3 linked regions of the Homo sapiens genome follow. The protein of the gene in region 3 purifies or fractionates together with the protein of the main gene of each other region. This does not show direct contact. Each region holds a gene or a part of one and is shown on either strand. Other genes may lie near its edges.

What was found.
Region 1: the proteins of CIDEA (region 3) and PKP1 purify together in Homo sapiens (affinity purification with mass spectrometry; 3 studies listed by BioGRID and IntAct, with this or other methods). This does not show direct contact.
Region 2: the proteins of CIDEA (region 3) and SERPINA12 purify together in Homo sapiens (affinity purification with mass spectrometry; 3 studies listed by BioGRID and IntAct, with this or other methods). This does not show direct contact.

What each region holds. Positions count from the first base shown.
Region 1 is NC_000001.11:201,328,506-201,333,489, forward strand, and holds the end of PKP1 (plakophilin-1), read left to right. Parts: intron 1-256; coding exon 257-331; 3' UTR 332-363; intron 364-1,568; 3' UTR 1,569-4,484; downstream 4,485-4,984. UniProt on the Homo sapiens protein: A component of desmosome cell-cell junctions which are required for positive regulation of cellular adhesion.
Region 2 is NC_000014.9:94,492,470-94,499,469, reverse strand, and holds part of SERPINA12 (serpin A12 precursor), read left to right. Parts: intron 1-1,039; 5' UTR 1,040-1,072; coding exon 1,073-1,706; intron 1,707-2,826; coding exon 2,827-3,097; intron 3,098-7,000. UniProt on the Homo sapiens protein: Adipokine that modulates insulin action by specifically inhibiting its target protease KLK7 in white adipose tissues.
Region 3 is NC_000018.10:12,249,244-12,257,661, forward strand, and holds the start of CIDEA (lipid transferase CIDEA), read left to right. Parts: upstream 1-5,117; 5' UTR 5,118-5,140; coding exon 5,141-5,178; exon of another isoform or gene 5,179-5,573; coding exon of another isoform or gene 5,574-5,713; intron 5,714-5,769; exon of another isoform or gene 5,770-6,188; intron 6,189-6,335; exon of another isoform or gene 6,336-8,213; intron 8,214-8,418. UniProt on the Homo sapiens protein: Lipid transferase that promotes unilocular lipid droplet formation by mediating lipid droplet fusion. Lipid droplet fusion promotes their enlargement, restricting lipolysis and favoring lipid storage.

The sequences.
Region 1 (4,984 bases), on a different chromosome or scaffold from region 3:
CTCAGGTTTCTGCAAATGCAAGTAGGAAATTCACATGTGTCAGTGGAAGTTCAAACACATTGCACCGACTCATGGAGAGTTATTATGTTTTGTTACACAGTTACTGAGGCCAGTTTTCGCCCTGACACATGTACTTAGTGATAAGAGAGAGGCTGTGTGAGCCGAGGTTGCTCTGGGAGGGCAGTGGACAGTGTCTGACCCCACAGCAAGCCCCACACAGTTTTGTGTCATTTGGTTGCTGTTTCTCCCTTTGCAGCAAGGTTTCGATAGGAACATGCTGGGAACCTTAGCTGGGGCCAACAGCCTCAGGAACTTCACCTCCCGATTCTAAGAAGAGACTGTCCAAGCAAGTTAGGCTTGCAGGTAAGAATCACCCCACCCTCAGGGATGCCTCTGGGACCACTGCAACAGCCTCAGCCAGTCTCAGAGACAAGGGCTAGGCCTGTGCTCCCAGGGACACAGAAGCATCCTTTTGCCTGGCTCTGGACAACACAAGCAGTTGTGTAGACTGCTTGGCTGGGGGCGTAGTTTGTCCCACCCTCAGGACGTTAGGGGTGTATAATGTCCTGGGAGTTTCAGAGGGGTCAGAGGGTCTGGGCAGGACTGCTAGGTACAAATGTGTGGGTTGTACACTGAACAACACAGGTGGTGCCCTTCACATGGACTACAGTGAGTTCTACAATATGGATAACTGGAGTTCTAGAATATGTCATTCTGGGCTTGGCCATACACAGCTCACTTTTTTATCCTTTTATAATTCACTTTCCACTCTCTGCACATGCCCAGTGTGGACAAGTTTATTTCCAGCTGATGATTCTAGGCCCCCAAAACTCAGAACCAATCCTATGATGAAGGCTTGCCAACCTCAGTGTTCATTGGAATTATATGGGTTGCTTGCTAAAATGCACACACTTGGCCCAGCCCCAGCTATTCTGACTCAATAGCCCTGGAGTGGGATCCAGGAAAGTCTATTTTTAAACAAGCGTCTAAAGTGTTTCTGATGCGGGTAAACTGAGAATCACAAATAGAGATACTCCAGCCAGATGTCATCACCCCTAGAGAGGGGCCTCAGGGGCAGCCCAGCATGGAGCCATCTGCAAATAGCCTGGGATCAAGACAGGGTCTCCTGAGCTAAGGGGGACCTCTTAACCAGGCTGTCTGCCAGCACCCCCCACCCCAATCCCTGGTGGGGAGAGAGGACTGTAACTTTGGTCTGGATGAAGGTTAAATAAGACTTCAGATATCCTCTCCTAGTAAACAAGCTGCAACAACTTGAAGGCAGAAAAGGGGAAAGAGATTCGGTTTGGCAAATCCTTAATGAACACCACCTTCTTTCTTAGTGAGGAAGACGGTGGGCAGGGGACACTGTGGCAGGGTGGCAGACAAAGCTGACAAGCTTCTGAATCCACAGGGCAATCTATAAATGTGTCTAGGGCAGCCTTGAATCCAGTCTCAGGCCAGGGCACACTTGAGGGCCGATGTGAGAAGAGGGTGGCAGTACAGGCTGGGCTTGTGGTGTGGAAACATCTCACTGTAAACACTAACTGGAGGACTTTCTCCTTTTCCAGGAAGATATGACCCAGCTGAGAAGCCCTCAGGCCTCGCTGGATGGGGTTTTCTGTCCATCCTATGCAGTATTTGGGAAAGTTCACAAGAAACTGAGAAGAAACCTAAAAACTGTGGATAGTGGAAAGATTTTTAGATTTTTTTTTTCCTTGGGGAAACTGGCAGGCAATGGGGGTTAGGGAGGTTGGGGCGGTGGGGGCTTTCTTGAGTTAAAGGGGCTTATATGTGATGTCAATATTTCTTCCTCTGAGAAATGGTATATATATGTGTATAATGTAAGTGTGTGCATGCATGTGCGCGTGCATGTGTGTGTGTGTGAGTGTCTTAAAGCATAACCACAAACTGCAAAAAGCTAGGTAAGCTATTTTGTTGCAGCTCATAAGGTGGTGAAAAGGACTCTCCTGTGTTTCTTACTCATAGGCAAGGACAACATGTGCTTTTTGGTGAGCTGCTCATAATTCCTGAAATGTGTGGTGCCAGGGCAAGGGGGCCATCACTGCAGTCAGGCCCTCAGAGGAGTCCTGCAGGCTTCCTACCAGTGGTCTCCAGGGGTGCAGGAGTAACTGGGGCTGGGCCAGCCTCCCCACTTACAAGGCTGCTTTCCAGGAAGGGAGGTCTGGTGTATCTCATGGGAGAATCTGGGGTGTCTGTAATGTCACCCCTCCAGCAGCGCCACAAGGACTGAGGTTGGGTAGGTGTGGGGTTCCAGAGGACAGCAGGACACTCTCGCATACTTTGCCAAATGAGGCCTGCTCAGAGGAGTAGGAGCTGAAAGATGGTGCCTTCCACCCTCTTGGGCTGTGTGCCCATCAGAGCAGGCTCAGCCTGCAAAGGCCCTGCATTCAGAGGTCTTGTAATCTACTTGTTGCAGGAGAAAGAAGGTAAAAAATGATTTTTTTAAGAAAAGCTATTTTATTGCAGCTCTTTCCCAAGAGCTGTTCTGGGAATGGCTGGTCTTCATATTCCCAGTGGAGAGGGGAACAAGTGGGGCTGGGCATATACCTATTCCGGCTTCTAGTGGGATGGAGTTGGGGTATAGAAATTAACCAGGAAGATGTTTCCACCAAGCCTGCTGTGAGTCAATTGAGGGAGTGTTTGGGGTCCCAGGAGACTTGGACGGGGGGAGTTTGGGTAGACTAGGAAAGGAAAGTGCCATATCAGGGTACCGGTACCGGCAAGCTCACATCTCAGCCAGGGGCCATGCCCCACTTCCCCTGACCCCAGCTGTCTTGTCTCCACTCTGTGAAACCCACAGGGGATGTGATAAACAGGGCTATTAGGGGTATCAGCCACGTCGAGCCCCCAGACTCTGTGCACTTCAGACCAGCAGCAGCAGGAGGGCTCCCGAGGGCCTTATGAGAAAACCTGTGTGGACATCCCTTGGTGTACACTAAGACAGAGCAGAGCCCAGCGCTCCCAAGCCTTCCTCCTTCCAGCTTCTACCTCCATGCTAGCATTGCTGGTGTTAGAGAGGAATTAACTTCCTGGTCTGTGCCCTTCTCTAGAAGAATATAAGATGCTCCTCCTCCTCACCCCTTCTCAGCCTCCTCCCAAGTCTTCCTCTTCTGCACCACCCCCGAGTCCAAACCCACCTCTTGCCCCAGCATTCAGGCTGGAAAACACTGATGTGGACTCAGTATGATAACTGAGATGGGGGACGCCAGACATGTGAGGACGCTGTCCTCCGAGAGGTGTCCCCGGCTGTTAGCCAGCTGTGCTGTGGTGCTGTGGGTCTGTCATACCCTCCCTTGCTTCTGTTCACACTGGGAGGCCCACTCCTGGCTCACCTCTCCCTCTCAGGGACCCACGTGGGAGCCTGGATCCCTGGACTGTCCTGGGCATAGGTTTCAGGGGCCTCCTTTGTTGTCATCAGAACCCAGAGGAATTCTTCTCCTAAAAAATACGTATGGCATACCAATCTGTGCGGGGCAGTGTCCTAAGCACTTAGACTACATCAGGGAAGAACACAGACCACATCCCTGTCCTCATGCGGCTTATGTTTTCTGGAGGAAAGTGGAGACACAAGTCCTTGGCTTTAGGGCTCCCCCGGCTGGGGGCTGTGCAGTCCGGTCAGGGCGGGAGGGGAAATGCACCGCTGCATGTGAACCTTACCAGCCCAGGCGGATGCCCCTTCCCCTTAGCACTACCCTGGCCTCCTGCATCCCCTCGCCTCATGTTCCTCCCACCTTCAAAGAATGAAGAGCCCCATGGGCCCAGCCCCTGCCCTGGGAACCAGGCAGCCTTCCAGACCTCAGGGGCTGAGGCAGACTATTAGGGCAGGGCTGACTTTGGTGACACTGCCCATTCCCTCTCAGGCCAGCTCAGGTCACCCGGGCCTCTGACCCAGGCCTGTCACTTTGAGAGGGGCAAAACTGAGAGGGGCTTTTCCTAGAGAAAGAGAACAAGGAGCTTGCCAGGCTTCATGTAGCCGACACACGTCTCAGGATTTTAAGTCCACATTGGCCTCACACTACCAGGGCCAATGCCCAAAATAAGGAGTTCCAATTTGGGGCCAAATGAGGAAGGACACAGACTCTGCCCTGGGATCTCCTGTGCTAGCGGCCAATGACAAATCCAGTCATTGGCCACCAGCCACCTCTGCAGTGGGGACCACACTAGCAGCCCTGACTCCACACTCCTCCTGGGGACCCAAGAGGCAGTGTTGCTGTCTGCATGTCCACCTTGGAATCTGGCTGAACTGGCTGGCAGGACCAAGACTGCGGCTGGGGTGGGCAGGGAAGGGAAGCCGGGGGCTGCTGTGAGGGATCTTGGAGCTTCCCTGTAGCCCACCTTCCCCTTGCTTCATGTTTGTAGAGGAACCTTGTGCCGGCCAGGCCCAGTTTCCTTGTGTGATACACTAATGTATTTGCTTTTTTTGGAAATAGAGAAAATCAATAAATTGCTAGTGTTTCTTTGAACTTTTTCGAGGAGTGGATTCTTTGGGGTGCTGTTGAGGGATGAAGGGGCTACTCATTTCCTTCCATGATCTCCTCTTACCCTGTACCAGGCAAGGACTGAGAATGCCACCCGGGGGCACAGGGACAGCGCTATCCATGGACACCTGCTCTACAGCAGCACATCGAGCCTCACCGCAGCTCCATGACACTAGGATTGCTGTCCTGATTTTTAAAATAAGTAAAGCGAGACTTAGGGAAGGAACAAATACCCCCAGGGTCACACAGCTTGTAAATGTCCCCAAGCCTGAACCCATCCAGGTGGGGCATCTGTAGGAAAGAGAAATTCAAAGATGAAGGTCAAGGAGTTGGTGTTTATTTAGTTTTATTTATTTACTTTTTGAGACAGGGGTTTTGCTCTGTTGCCCAGGCTGGAGTACAGGGATGAGATCATGGCTCAAAGAGGGCTCAACCTCCCAGGCTCAAGCAATCCTCCCAGCTAAGGCTCCCAACTATGGGTCTCA
Region 2 (7,000 bases), on a different chromosome or scaffold from region 3:
AAATCAATAAGCTTTTTAGGCCAACATGCTTTTAGCATCTCTCTGCAGAATTAGGGCTGGAGATTAAGGGAAAACGTAGCTAAAAGTCTTGTCTCCCAGAAGCTCACAGTGGCCGTTGGAAGATGTCAAAGCTGAGAGGTGGATGAAAGGAGCAGCAGTCCAGAGCCAGGCAGACCTGGCTGTTCCTCTCCCATGGTGCCATCCTCTTCCCTCCCTGGGAAGGGTGTAGGGAAGAAGGTTTCCTGGAGATCTAAGTCCTCCTGGAATGAGTATCCACCACCTAGAGAACATATGAGCTTAAACAAAGAGCTTGATCTCTGTAAATTAGTCATAATTCTTTTGGCTGAAGGGGAAAAATTTACCTCAAACCAGCCAACTCTAAAAGGGAAATTTATTGGCTTTCATAACTTGGAAACATGGAAGTGGGTAGCAAACTGAGTTAAAGGTTAGTCCAGGGTCTCCAAAGATGTCATCAGATGTGTCAGTCCATTTCTGTCTTTCCACCTCCCTCTATCACTCTCCTCTCCTTCTACATGTGGAAACCATGGCCACATTCAGCTCCAGGGCTACTTCACAAAGCTAGCTGCCCCAAAGCTTAGGGGGTTTTGCATTCCCTTAGAAAGACACTGAGAGGTCTGATTTTGGTCCACACTCTCATCTTTAACCAGCCAGTGTGGCAAAGGAATGAAGTATTATGATGGTAGGTCTGGGCCATATGCCTACACTACGGGGTATCCTCACTGTGGTCCAATGGAGGGAAGGAGAGCTGTTCCTCAAAGGAATTGAGACACTGTTTCCATAAAGAGGGTACAAAAACAAGAGTTGTCTTCTACATTCAGTCCTCCTATTTACAAAGTGTAGAAGTCATTTCTAGTCCCCAGGGTGATTATAAAGTTTAAATGCTATAAAGGGGTCAAAGCACTCATAAACTGCTATGTACAACACATAATAGTCACTGTATTTCTTCTTTCATCTGGTCTTCCTCTGGGTAACATGTAGGCAATGGGGTTATCATGTTCTTTTTTTCTGCTGACCTCAGGTCTACTACTCAACAGGATATTCTTCAAGGAAAATGAACCCCACACTAGGCCTGGCCATTTTTCTGGCTGTTCTCCTCACGGTGAAAGGTCTTCTAAAGCCGAGCTTCTCACCAAGGAATTATAAAGCTTTGAGCGAGGTCCAAGGATGGAAGCAAAGGATGGCAGCCAAGGAGCTTGCAAGGCAGAACATGGACTTAGGCTTTAAGCTGCTCAAGAAGCTGGCCTTTTACAACCCTGGCAGGAACATCTTCCTATCCCCCTTGAGCATCTCTACAGCTTTCTCCATGCTGTGCCTGGGTGCCCAGGACAGCACCCTGGACGAGATCAAGCAGGGGTTCAACTTCAGAAAGATGCCAGAAAAAGATCTTCATGAGGGCTTCCATTACATCATCCACGAGCTGACCCAGAAGACCCAGGACCTCAAACTGAGCATTGGGAACACGCTGTTCATTGACCAGAGGCTGCAGCCACAGCGTAAGTTTTTGGAAGATGCCAAGAACTTTTACAGTGCCGAAACCATCCTTACCAACTTTCAGAATTTGGAAATGGCTCAGAAGCAGATCAATGACTTTATCAGTCAAAAAACCCATGGGAAAATTAACAACCTGATCGAGAATATAGACCCCGGCACTGTGATGCTTCTTGCAAATTATATTTTCTTTCGAGGTAAGGCTTTTGGCATGTTGGTGTGGAAAGAATAGGATGACCACTAGACTTGGGTTAAAAACCTGGGTTGGCCACTTGTTTACTCTGTGACCTTGAATTCATATGTGATTTATCTCTCAAAACCTCACTTTTCCTATCTGTAAAATGGTTACCATGATACATAACTCATACAGTTATTGAGATTTAAAGTGAAAATGTATGTGAAATGAGCTTTATGAAGTCTATCATTTTCATTATTGGTGATTATCCTAACACAACATTGGTTATAGAGGTTGGAATGACATTTTGTTCCCATCACTTAGATGAGAAAAAAAAATCAGAGTGAGATTAACTGACTTACTCCAAGTTACAAAGCCCATCATTGACAGTCAGGACTGGAACACATTTCTCCTGGCCCTAGCACTGTGTGCTTTCCAGCACTTTAAGCAGACACCTGAGATGGTGATTGTGTTGATTATGGTGATGGTGATCACTTGGTGGGTCTCCTTATGTATGTATTATATAAATTCTCCTTATCAGACTTTATATATTTCCCAGATCTGATGGAGAGAGACAGAAAAAAAAGATGGAAGAATGTTTCCAATTTCAACTTTATCCCCCAACACCACACAGAACACATGTACACAAACAGGTTGGCCAAAATAGGTGAGAATCAGAGGCCAACACCCATCAGTCCAGACAAAATCACTGCTGGAGTGTCAGGAACATGGTACTAAATATAAAAAATTGAGGGTTCTCAAAATCCACAGGCAGATTGATGGCTAAAGAAGAGTCTACTCACATCAGACTCAATTAGCCCTCATTAATTGTAATGCAGTCCCCTCTGTTAGGACATAATCAGTGGGCTTTCTCAGGCTTAGGGGAACCTGAGCTTATGGTAGTCTTCTTTTCCCCTCTTAATTTGGCAGTCTAGTCCTGGCTTCTTTGGGAACTAATAATTGCACCTGAGCCCATATCATCAGAAATCTCCAGGACATGGCATGAGGGCAAGGACTTCCCTGATATCCCGGAATATCCCCTTTCACCCTGAATCTGTGTGGAGAGAGACTACTGGTTAGTTGGATTTAGTCACCTTTTTTCCCTTGGGATAACATGTCTGTTTGTCTTTCTTCAATCTAAGCCAGGTGGAAACATGAGTTTGATCCAAATGTAACTAAAGAGGAAGATTTCTTTCTGGAGAAAAACAGTTCAGTCAAGGTGCCCATGATGTTCCGTAGTGGCATATACCAAGTTGGCTATGACGATAAGCTCTCTTGCACCATCCTGGAAATACCCTACCAGAAAAATATCACAGCCATCTTCATCCTTCCTGATGAGGGCAAGCTGAAGCACTTGGAGAAGGGATTGCAGGTGGACACTTTCTCCAGATGGAAAACATTACTGTCACGCAGGTAAAGTGGGTGCCTAGCCCTCGCAGCTTTTTCCTTCTCTTGTCTTCCCTCTTATTTCTGCTGTCTGAGCTCTTACCTCATGGCCAAGTCCTCTTCTGGGCTCTATAATAAACTTATATCATGGTGAGAATTAGACTGGGGAACAAATCATAGGAATAGAGTGAAGTGCCTGGCTCTTTGAGGGAGATTCATCAAGACTGTGAGGGCGCAGTAGATGGAGTCTTACTGGAGGGCGGTGGTCAGGGAGGACTTCATAGAGGAGATAGCATTTGAGCCAAGTCTTCAAGGGTGAGTGGCAGTCTGTATGAAAGGGTGAGGAGCAAAGGAAACTGCAAGGACAAACACGGGCTGTAAAAGAGAGCTGTGAGTTGTGAGTAGAATGATGTTGTCAACTGTGGTGTCACAACAAAACCCATGAAGTATCCAAAGTAAGTTATACAAATAATAGTTGAAGAATAAAAGAGAGTAAATATTTTTCTTTTTAAAACATAAACTGATATTAGATTAATGCTAAGCCTACAGAATTCCTCCCAGGCACTTGCTTACTGATAGATTTTGGGGGAAAAGGTAAGAGTTGGTGTTGGGTTTAAGTCTTGGGGACTTAGTGTCAGCGTGGACATACATAGTGCCTTGAAAGTGGCTGGGCTAGTGGCCTCTAGTAGCCAGAGCAGTGAAGGGGATGTAGCAGAGTGGGCAGTTTCCACTTGGACAGGTGTCAGATGTCCTCTTCTCTGTTCTCTTTCCCTCTTCCACCTTGTCCCTGTCATCATTCCCCATGCATCTCCATAAAGGTATTTACTAAGAACCTCTGCCACACCTAACGTCCTGTCAGGCACCAAGGACGGTACCAAGAGAGGTACAGATGATGCTAGGACTGAGCTTAGTAACCCATGGGTGGTAACTGAACTGATGCAACTCTTTTCATGCAGAACACTGTCTTGGAGGCATTCCAGAATGCATCTCTTATATCTAGAGTGAGCTGCAGACTTAAGAAAGGGAAATTCTGGCCGGGCGCGGTGGCTCACGCCTGTAATCCCAGCACTTTGGGAGGCCGAGGCGGGCGGATCACGAGGTCAGGAGATCGAGACCATCCCGGCTAAAACGGTGAAACCCTGTCTCTACTAAAAATACAAAAAATTAGCCGGGCGTAGTGGCGGGCGCCTGTAGTCCCAGCTACTTGGGAGGCTGAGGCAGGAGAATGGCATGAACCCGGGAGGCGGAGCTTGCAGTGAGCCGAGATCCCGCCACTGCACTCCAGCCTGGGCGACAGAGCGAGACTCCATCTCAAAAAAAAAAAAAAAAAAAAAAGAAAGGGAAATTCTGATTCCGAATGCTTCCAATTAAGTCATGGTACTGGGATGGAGGAGCCAAGTAGCAGAGCATCCCAAGAGCGTTGCCATCCCTTGAGATCTGCATAGTCTCACCTGCCCTTCCCACTGGGAACCAGGGAGGTGGAAGGGTTGGCAGAGTCTGGCCACTGAAACAAAAGGAGGGGTCCAGGTTACAACCTTTAGCTGAGACCTGGTCTTCTCATCTATGGTGTGTGGCCATAATATCGCCAACACCACAGTACTCTTGAGAGAATTAAATGTGCCTTAGCACAGCATTGCCCCACAGAAAACATATCCAAATGCAAATTCCTCTTTCCTTCCCATTGTCTAAAGAGGCAGAGCTCCAAGGTTCTCAGCAGAACTTTTGAACTTCTGGTTTATTGAATGACAGGTGTCCTGCAAATCTGACCCTCTTACCCTCAGGTTGAAGCCCTAGGGTGGCTGCTCTTCCACTGCAGAAGATGTTCCCAGTGGGAGGGGCGGGTGAGGCTGTGCAGATCTCGAGGGATGGCAGCGCTCTTGGAATGCCCTGTCACTTAGCTCCCCCCTTCCATAAATGTGACTTTATTGAAAGCATTCAGAACCAGAATTTTCCTTTCTCAAGCCTGCAGCTCACTCTAGATATCAGAGATGCATTCTGCAATGCCTCCAAGCCATGTTCCGTGTGAAAGGAGTCACATCAGTTCAGTTCAGTTACCACCCACGGGTTCCCCCATGTTGTCTCAACATGGGGACATCCCCAAAGGGACTGACGTGTTTCAGCCTGCACTCTACAGATTTTTAGAGTTCACAGAGATGTCTTGAGAGATCTCCCTAGGGAACTGGGGGGTGTAGAACATGAAGAGAAGGTAAGAAATGGGAGGGATGCCAGGTCTTCCACCCCACTTCATCCAGAAGTCTGGCTTTGTGAGACATGGACTCCAGAATATGACATTTCCCGTAGGACTCAAATTACAGTGGCTTGAGACTCTGCAGTTGATTTGCTGGAACTCACTGTCCTGAGTGCACTCCACCCCTATCTCCAAGCCATGTCTGACAATTTCTCCATGGGGCTACAGCTCAGGTGCTACACTGGGGGCTTCACATTCCCCTCACTGAGGCCCTCTGCAGCCCCTGGTGCTGTGACCACCATCAGGCCACCACCAACCACACAGATGTTCCCTGGGCACTGCCACCATCTCTCTGGCTTCAGGCTTCATCTCCTTTTGCACCTTTACACAAGAGTGAAATAGAACCTTTGAGATTTTCTGTAGGCTAGTGCCAGACTTCCTGGAGGTTTGGGAATAACAGAACCAAAGCTCCTCACAGGGACCCAGGATAACTTACAGCGCACAGAAGCGGCGTCTTGTGAAGTCCAAGTGTAAGCTGCTCTCAGTGGCGTCTCGTGAAGTCCAAGTGTAGAGTGTAGGCTGCTCTCAGTGGTGTCTTGTGGAGTCCAGGTGTAAAGTGCAGGCTGCTCTCAGTGGCGTCTTGTGAAGTCCAAGTGTAGGCTGCTCTCAGCATCTCTTCCAGGGCACCTCCTTCCATTTTTCTAGTGCCTGGTCTGCCTCCCCCATCCCTCTGGGACTGCTTTCCGCATCTCCTTGACTTGAGGCCAGGCCTCCCCACCAGGAGGGCCATAGAAAGGAAGGTTCCTCTCACCCCAGGGATGTCTTGCCTACCCAGTCACTTCTGGCCTTGGAATGACAGACAGGGTATTGTCCACCTTCCCGAGAAGAAACTCCAAATCCTCTTGCAGGACAGGGGGCTTGCTCACCGTCCCCAGGGAATTACATTTCATTAGAACATGATAGGAACAAACATTCCTACCTTCTGAGCTCATTATTTCTGGGAGATAAGTGGTCAAGTTGCTTTGATCTACAGGTGGGAAGCCTAGTCCAGAGAGCTCAGTGGCCCGCTATGGGAGAGCAGAGGTGGACGGGCTATCCCTATGCATTCTTTCTGCAGTCCTCTCCAGACTGGAGGGCCTAGAAGACACTGAGCAGAAAAATCACCTTTTCCCTAAAAGAAGTAACCAAGTCAACAGACACACACCAACTTACATGTGTGTAGAACATGTCAGAATTTAGGCTTCGGATGACTTCCACCTGGCCTCTGTGCAGGAGGCAGACACCTGCTTTGGATTTGCATAATTTGAGGCCAGGTGCTGCTCTGATTTCCCCAGAGGAAAAGCTCTGTTTCCCAGGGTCCACCTTTAGGAGCAGAAAACTGCTGGTGGCTTTGAAATAGCCATTGTCCTGTTCAGAAGTGTCGAGGGTCCACTCCCAGCCTGGGTGCCCCCCACACATTTCCGTACATATTGGTATATGCACTCACCTGTCAGCACAGCTGCACTTAGTGCCTTCCCACGTTGGCACAAACTAAAGCCGATCTCCTCATTTACGCACTGGACCTACGGCCCCCTGCTACTCAGGAACATCACCCTAGAAATCCTCTCCTCACTTTCCTACATCAGCATATGTTTTTCTCTCTTCTGAATCATTTCCATCAGATACAAAGATGCCCTTATCTTTCCTATCATGAAACCTCGCAGGGGGCCAGGGAAAACTTACAGCTCATAGAAGTGGCTTCT
Region 3 (8,418 bases):
GTCGACTGCAAGCAATGCTCCTCAATTTTGTGAAAATTCACCTTAGTTTTTTGCTGTAACCCAGCTCATGGCCAAGGCATCGTTGCATAGATTTGAGACACTAGAAATCAAACCTGAACTGCCGGAAGTGCAGATGCCCAGGCAGACCTCCTGGTCAGGCTTCAAATCCCACCTTCCACACCTGTTCCTGGGAGATGAAGTTTGTACCCATGGTCATCTGTCCCTCTGCCACTCCATTCAGATGTGTCCACGTCTCCATGGCCCCTCCATCCAAGAGAAAGCAACACACATGTGCAACCAGGAAACATACAAAAGTGCCTTGCAGCCTTGTGGATCCTTACCGGCCAGATAGCCATGGGCTGTGGAATGGAACATAAATATCACACAATGCAGTTTTCCTTGGCAGCAAAAATGAGCAAACAAATAACATACATAATAAAATGAATAATTTCACAGGCACAATGAAGAGTGAACAAAACCAGGCACAAATGAGAACACCCTGCGTGATTCTATTTATACAAAGTTCAAGAATACGCAAAATGAACCTGTTGTAATGGAAGGCAAAACAGTGTGATCTCCCAATGAGATACCATCTCACACCAGTTAGAATGGCAATCATTAAAAAGTCAGGAAACAACAGGTGCTGGAGAGGATGTGGAGAAATAGGAACACTTTTACACTGTTGGTGGGACTGTAAACTAGTTCAACCATTGTGGAAGTCAGTGTGGTGATTCCTCAGGGATCTAGAACTAGAAATACCATTTGACCCAGCCATCCCATTACTGGGATATACCCAAAGGATTATAAATCATGCTGCTATAAAGACACATGTACACGTATGTTTATTGCAGCACTAATTCACAATAGCAAAGACTTGGAACCAACCCAAATGTCCAACAATGATAGACTGGATTAAGAAAATGTGGCACATATACACCATGGAATACTAAGCCATAAAAAATGATGAGCTCATGTCCTTTGTAGGGAGGGACATGGATGAAATTGGAAATCATCATTCTCAGTAAACTATCGCAAGGACAAAAACCAAACACCGCATGTTCTCACTCATAGGTGGGAATTGAACAATGAGAACACATGGACACAGGAAGGGGAACATCACACTCTGGGGACTGTGGTGGGGTGGGGGGAGGGGGGAGGGATAGCATTAGGAGATATACCTAATGCTAAATGACGAGTTAATGGGTGCAGCACACCAGCATGGCACATGTATACATATGTAACTAACCTGCACATTGTGCACAGGTACCCTAAAACTTAAAGTATAATAATAATAAAATAAAATAAAATAAACAGTGTGATCTCCAGTGTGGGGTGGGTGGTACGGCCTTGAAGGGGCAAAGGGAGCCTAATGGGCACTGCAAATATTCTGTCTTGATCCAAGCAGTTTATGAACATAAACATTCACACAAAGATCTGTGCATTTTCGCAGATGCACATTATTCTGCAGTACAATTGTTCTTAATTTTTTAAAGCCCAGCATGAACCAACTGGTAGCCCAAGGGCAAGGAGCAGCCCGTGGGGCAGCCTCCTGAGCACAGGGCTGGACAGAGAGGGCGGGGGAATGGACCTGGTGGAGAGCTAACCAGTGAGATGCTCAGAAAATGCTTGCTGAGTGGGACAGCAATCATTTACACCTTAGTATAAATAACTATAGAAAGTTTTTTCAAACAGGGAGGCTGGAAGCTATACGGAAATAGGAGGACACTTGGCTTTGGCAAATAGCAGAGCAAATTGAAATAAATTATTTGCCTTACTGACCATTCTGCTGAAGATGCCCTGGCTATGTGTTTAACGGTGTTTGGATTAGTCCTCTTCCAGTGCTTGATGGTTCACAATGTATTTCAAAAGCATTACCTCACTCGACTCTCACTGCACCCCACTGAAACTTGGTAAAAAGTGCATGTCATCAGGGATCAGTAGGAATAAAGAAACTGAAGCTCAAAAAGGAAAGTTCCCACAGTGACAGAATTTGAAAGTAGCAAGGCCAAAGTTCAGGGATGATTGTTTCCTCCACCAAAAAAAAACAAAAACAGAAATTGGATTAGAAACTGGAGTTTCTTTGAACCCTAAGCACCGATGTTTATAACGTATTGCGGTAAGTGGGAATCAATTTCTGTTTCAGGCACGCGCTCTTGGCTAGGAGTAGGGAGTGGAGCCGTTCATTGCTGTCGTGGTCAGTCCCACTCACGCTGCTGGAGCTGACCAGGCCGGCCCTTCCCTCATGGCATTTGAGTCTCACACACCCTGTGAGACAGACAGGCCGCTGCCCTGTGACAGATGAAGATCTGAGGCTTGGGGTAGTTATGTGACTGGCCCAAGGTCACCCAGCTAGAGGAGGCAAAACCAGGCTAGGAACCTAGGTCTCTGCACTCCAGAGCATGGGCTGTGCCCAGCACATGCTGAGACTCGGGGAGTGGGGAGGCATCCATACTTTGGAGAAAGAGCAGAGCCCACTGTGGCATCACCCCACAGATACTGCTGGGAGCCGAGGGAAGGCAATGCTGAGGTCCCTCCCTGAGGGTGTGGGTGTCAGGTGGAGCCCACTGTTCACAGCTGCACAGGCTCTGTGACAACAAACATTTGGTGAATTGAACTAAAAAGCTGGGTTCCCAATCCTGGTTGCCCGGGCACAGAGTAGTTGTTGAACATGGATGAATGAAACCTGTCGAGTGAGAGTGGAATGAATTTGTGTGCTGGAGACGAGAATATGCTGGAAGGCTGGGCATGACTCGCACTGTTGTCTTCTCCATCATCTGTTGGGTTTGCAGCCAAGTCCCCTGGAGCTCAGTCTGCCCTCTGCCCTCTCCCACCTCTCCCCACCACCCTCCTAGCGCAGCACTCCAGGATTCCCACTCAGCAGCAGGGCAGTGACCGACTTTTACTCCCAGCCTGAAGATCTGCATGAGAACCAATGCACACCAGGGCTATGCTGCCTCCGTGACCAAGGGGTCCCCAGGGCCTGGTCTCACCACCATCTCCGCTTCCACCACAGACTTGCTCCCGTCCAGGATTCCTCATCTCTCCAGTCTCCCAAGCTCAAAACCCCAGGGTGATCTCCTGCTGGGTCCCTTCTGCCATCGCCATGGCCTGGAAATGTTTGCTAGTCCCCACCCCACCCCCATGTCCACACTCAGTGCCCAGGTCTTTATTTTTATTTTGTTAGAAGTGATAATGTCACTATGGTTATGTATGAGATCATGTCCTTGTTTCTCCAGAGATGCAAGCTAAAGGATTTAATTTGGAAGGGTTCAAATTCAAATATAAAGAACAAAGAAATATGTCAAAATGTTAACAGTGGTTGAATCCAGGGGCTGGGTGTAAGTGTGCTCATTGTACTGTTCTCTCTTATCTATCTATCTATCTATCTATCTATCTATCTATCTATCTATCTTATATATAGATAGATAGATATATACACACAAACAGATTTTTTTCTTTCTTTAGAGAGAAAGTCTCACTCTGTTGCCCATATTGGAGTGCAGTGACATGATCACAGCTCACTGCAACCTCAAACTCCTGGGCTCAGGTGATCCTCCCTCCTCAGCCTCCTGAGTAGCTAGCACTACAGGTGCTCGCCGTCATGCTTGGCTAATTATCGTTATTTTTGTGTAGAGATAGTAGTCTCACAGTGTTACCCAGGCTGGTCTCAAATTCCTGGCTTCAAGCCATCCTCCTGTTTTGGCCTCCCAAAGTACTGGGATTACAGATGTAAGCCAGTACCCTCAGCCCTGTTCTTTCTATGTATCTCTATATTTGAACTTTTTCACAATAAAAAGGTTAGAGGTAAGTTGACCTGAATTGATTGGACCCATTTTCTCATCCATCACATTGGGGCTGTGAGTGGGAGGGGCAGTGAATGACCTCCTAAAGCTGTGTCCGCTCAGTGCCTCTGGGGGAAGCTGCCCCCTGTGAGCCTGGAGCTGGGTGTTCCCAGCAGGCGGAGTCCTTGACTCTGGAAGGCAATTGCCTTTGGCTTCAACAGTCCTGCAAGTCACAAGGCTTGTTGACCACGGTGACCCTTTCTGAGAGCCAGCGGAGGAAGAGGGCGGGCATAGGGTCAGGTCTTAAGAGATCAGGTCAGTCTGCTCAAACCAGGTGGGCTCAGGAGGAGCCGGCGAGGGTCCCGCTGCAGCTCCCGAAACGCTGTTTCCAGGCGGCAGTCAGCAGTTGGGCACGAGAGGATATCCTAGCAAGCCTCCATCCCAGAAAGTTACACCTCTTACTGCCCGAGTCCCACCCCTCAACACTGAGCCCACCTCTTCAGTCCTGTAGTGAGGGGTTCTGGGAACCCCTTGTAACTGCCCGCCTTCCTCGGAGGTCTCAGAGGCCCTAATTGCGTCTTCCGATGGGAACAACCATGAGAGCAGGGTGTGGACGGAAGTCCCCCAGCCCCAGCGGGGTTCACTCTTTGCCTCCTCACTCTGCGAGGGTCCCTTACTACAGCTAAAAGGCAATTCATGCAGTCCAAAGGCTCCTTTCCCCTCCCGTTCTGCATGCCCTTCTCACTGTCCCCAAATGCTCATGACATGGCCTTGAGAGCAGCGCAGCGGGCAGGAAGCCCAGGCGCCTCGGAGAACCTGAAGGGCTGCAGGTCCCGGTGTCTGCGGCAGCTTCCGCATCCCTGCAGGGAACCAGCGGCTCGCTGAGCCTGGGGCTGGGCTCTGGGGGACTCCAGAGCTGGAGGCAAGTGGCGCTCACATCCGTCTCCTCACCTGCCCCACCCGTGGCCTGGGTTTAAAATCCACATACCCGTCTTTCCGCGGCCAAAGTGATGCTGCCAGGATTGGTTATGACCCCAACTGCCCCGACCCCCAGAAGTGCAAAACGAACAGGCTGGCAAGTGACCAAAAGAGACCCGGGGAGCATCTGGGCTTCCAAGGTCCTCGGTACGGCCCAAGGCAGCGAAGGACGCGCGGCTCCAGGCTGCGGGAGCCAGGACGACCGGGGGCTCCCAGAGCGCGAAGTCGCGATCCTCGGCGGTGGAGAGCTCGTGCCAAAACGTCCTCCCCTGCGCCAGTCAGGCCTTCGCGGGGCTGGCAGGCGGGCGGGGGCGGGGCCGCCGCACTTTAAGAGGCTGTGCAGGCAGACAGACCTCCAGGCCCGCTAGGGGATCCGCGCCATGGAGGCCGCCCGGGACTATGCAGGAGCCCTCATCAGGCGAGTGCCCCGCGTCCCCCTGATTGCCGTGCGCTTCCAATCGCCTTGCGTTCGGTGGCCTCATATTCCCCTGTGCGCCTCTAGTACCGTACCCCGCTCCCTTCAGCCCCCTGCTCCCCGCATTCTCTTGCGCTCCGCGACCCCGCGCACACACCCATCCGCCCCACTGGTGCCCAAGCCGTCCAGCCGCGCCCGCGGGCAGAGCCCAATCCCGTCCCGCGCCTCCTCACCCTCTTGCAGCTGGGCACAGGTACCAGGTGTGGCTCTTGCGAGGTGCGCGGGCGTCTGCAAACCAGGTGACAGCTGGCGAGTGGCTGCATGCATCTCTGGCCGCTGCTGCAGTCGCGGGCGCAGAAGAGGGTCCGGTCCCAGGAACCCCGAGCAAAGCTTCCGCGATGCGAGGGGACCGGGCTTCTGGGGGTCCTGGAAATCACAACGGGAGCTGGGCGCGGGAGGGGCCCAGGCTTGGCCCCTCCTGGAAGCGCGGGCTCTGGTCTCCGAGGGGAGGCCCCAACCGTCCGGCGGAGCCCTCCAGGTTGGTGGTGCTGGGAGAAGCGCTCCTCCTTGCCTCCGGGTCCAAGGGCGGAGACGCTGCCTGGGGAGCAGGGGGGACAAGGGGCGGGTGGACCCTGAGGAGTCTTCCCTGCGCTTCGCACCCGCTCGTGGTCGAACAGGCAGCATTGGCTATTTTCCTGCTTGGGTTAATATTCATATCCCAACAGACCCAAGCCAATTCTTGGTAAAATCCTAAGTCATTGCGTGGCAGCAACTGTAAAGTAAGGTCTAAGAGGGAGATCGTGTTTCTCTGAAGATCAAGTACCTGGAAAAGGATAGAGAACCATTTGCGGGCTTGAAGGTGCAGGCGTTCAGCGGCGCCGGGTCCCACTGTGTGTGCTACGTGTGGCGGGCAGAGAGACTACATGTGTGAAAGGGAGCGGTCCGGCTACGAAACGCAATCTATGAGCTTCCAATCCCGGGTTCTTAAATGGGAGCTGTTGTAGACACTGCAGGTTAGAAGCATCTTTCTCTTTAAAAATAAGCCCACAGTACAAGTCGGGGCGGTGGCAGGGGGACGCTGAGAAACACCTGCTTCGTGTATGGTCATTAACACGCTTAGGCCTAAAGGTCAGGGCCCTGTATCTTTTGCGTTCTTCCAGAACCATCCACACCACAGTCCCACTTCCAGGAGGGGAGGTCTTAGCAGTTTGGAATGCGTCCTTCCAACCACTTTTCCAGTGAATTCACAACACACCCACTGTTCCTCCGGAGCATGGGGGAAGGAGGTGTGGGCTGACTCGCACTAACCAATCCTGGTTGGCCTCTGAGCAGGATTCAGGCTGAGCCTGTCCCTGCCTCTGACTATTATAACAGCTCACCAAAATCCAAAATGCATCTGTGTGGGGTCTCTGTGAGGTCGTGTGAAGTGGAAGTGACTTGCTTATGAGCTGTTGACAAATGAAACATTGGGAAACCTTGAGTCTCCTAGGACACATTCCTTCCAGCTTGGCTCATCCCAGGAGTGAATGACTCTACCTGTTATGGACAAGCTGTTGCTGCAGTTCTTTGAAATCTACCTGCTTCCAGGCTGAACTACTGTCATTCTGTGAAATCTACCTGCTCCCAGGCTGAACTACTGTCATTCTGTGAAATCTACCTGCTCCCAGGCTGGACTACTGTCATTCTGTGAAATCTACCTGTTACCAAACTAAACTGGAAGAAAACAATCTGTAATTCTTGTTGAAGGGAAAACACCTTTTCTTCCCTGCCCCTCTCTAAAACCCTGTCCGGGCAAAAGAGCCAGAGGCCAGGTCCTAACATATTTGCTAATTGTGCTCTTGCTGGACTTCGGCTTCCTCTCAGGGTTCCTTAATTTAAACCAGGTCCAGGATGTCATAATTCTGTCTTTATTAGTAACTACATTTTACCAAGGAAAGAACCGAATCAATGTGCACAAAAATTTTTAAAAATCAGGTACTTGTAGTCAGTGGTGAAACCTTAACCCAGGCATTTGTTAGTCAGCTAGAATCGTTAGGGGCCTTGGTCCTGAGGAAAGCAGCCTGAGGTCTCACAACAAAGCTCCAGACATCAAGGAGGTCCACATGCAGGTTGACTATCACAGACAAAGTCTGCTCTGTTCCTGTGTTCTGCCAGTGATAACATTCCTGCCAAACGCTGAAGTTGTTATGAAGCTGGTACATGTTATAAGCTTCGTGTGAAATGGCTGCTTTCATAGCTATCTAGCACATTTTTCCTTTCCTTGAACAAGGAACTCTAGGTTTTGTGCTGCTATTTCAGTACAAATTTCACCAGTCTTCTTAGTGACATTAGTAAGGAATTAAGTATGCTACAAGTCAATCTCTCAGCTTTCTGCTTCTTGAATTTAAATTCTTATTTTAACGAAACTGCAAAGTGTTCAAAGACTTCATGGTCATGTATTGAACACTTGATAATGTCAAGCCTTTAGGTAGCTTGCGAAGAACTGAGCCATGAACCAGGCAGTCCTTGTCGGGGCGAGTTTATCTGGGGGGTAGGTGTGCTCCCACCTGCATATGTCACGTCCAAGAGCCCTAGGGGAGCCGGGCAGCAGGAAGTCTCGTCAAGGCAGCACTTGCTTCCCTGCTTCCTGCCACTGACCCCACCATCCTCTGACACTGTCTCTACAGCTCAGGGACTCTTCTCCAGGCCTGTGGAGCACTTTCCCAGCCCTCCCTTCCTTCTCTGCGTGGCTGTGCTTGACCTCACACTTCCCTCCTTGGCATTCCCTGCTGCTCTTGGTGACAGTGCTCGGTTGGCTTCTGTCCAATTCCTGTGTACTGCTTCTTCCTCCCACGGTGGCTGCCTCTTTTTCTTCCTAATGATGAGATGCAGAGTTCCCTCAGCCATCACTGCCCCCTGAATATTCCCAGGCACTATTTTACACAGCCTGTACTGCTGCCCCCTCACCCATGACACCAAAATATTTCACTTTGAGGAAGACCTTAATACTGGGCCCTTTTCCTCCATAGGTGGCATGTAAAGAAAGCTTTTTAATTCTCTGTACGGCTCAGGTTTGTTTTACTGGAGAAGAGTTCAGGTCTACTGTCAGTCTGTGGCTTGTTGGTGTATTTCACACACTTTTGGAAGTTGGCGGCGCCCTGCCTCCCTCGGGGCAGAATACAAAACCTTCCCTTCCCACCTGTTCCTGAGAGACATGCCGTTTCACAGCGTTCTATGAAGTCTGACTTTTCCTCTCTGGATTTC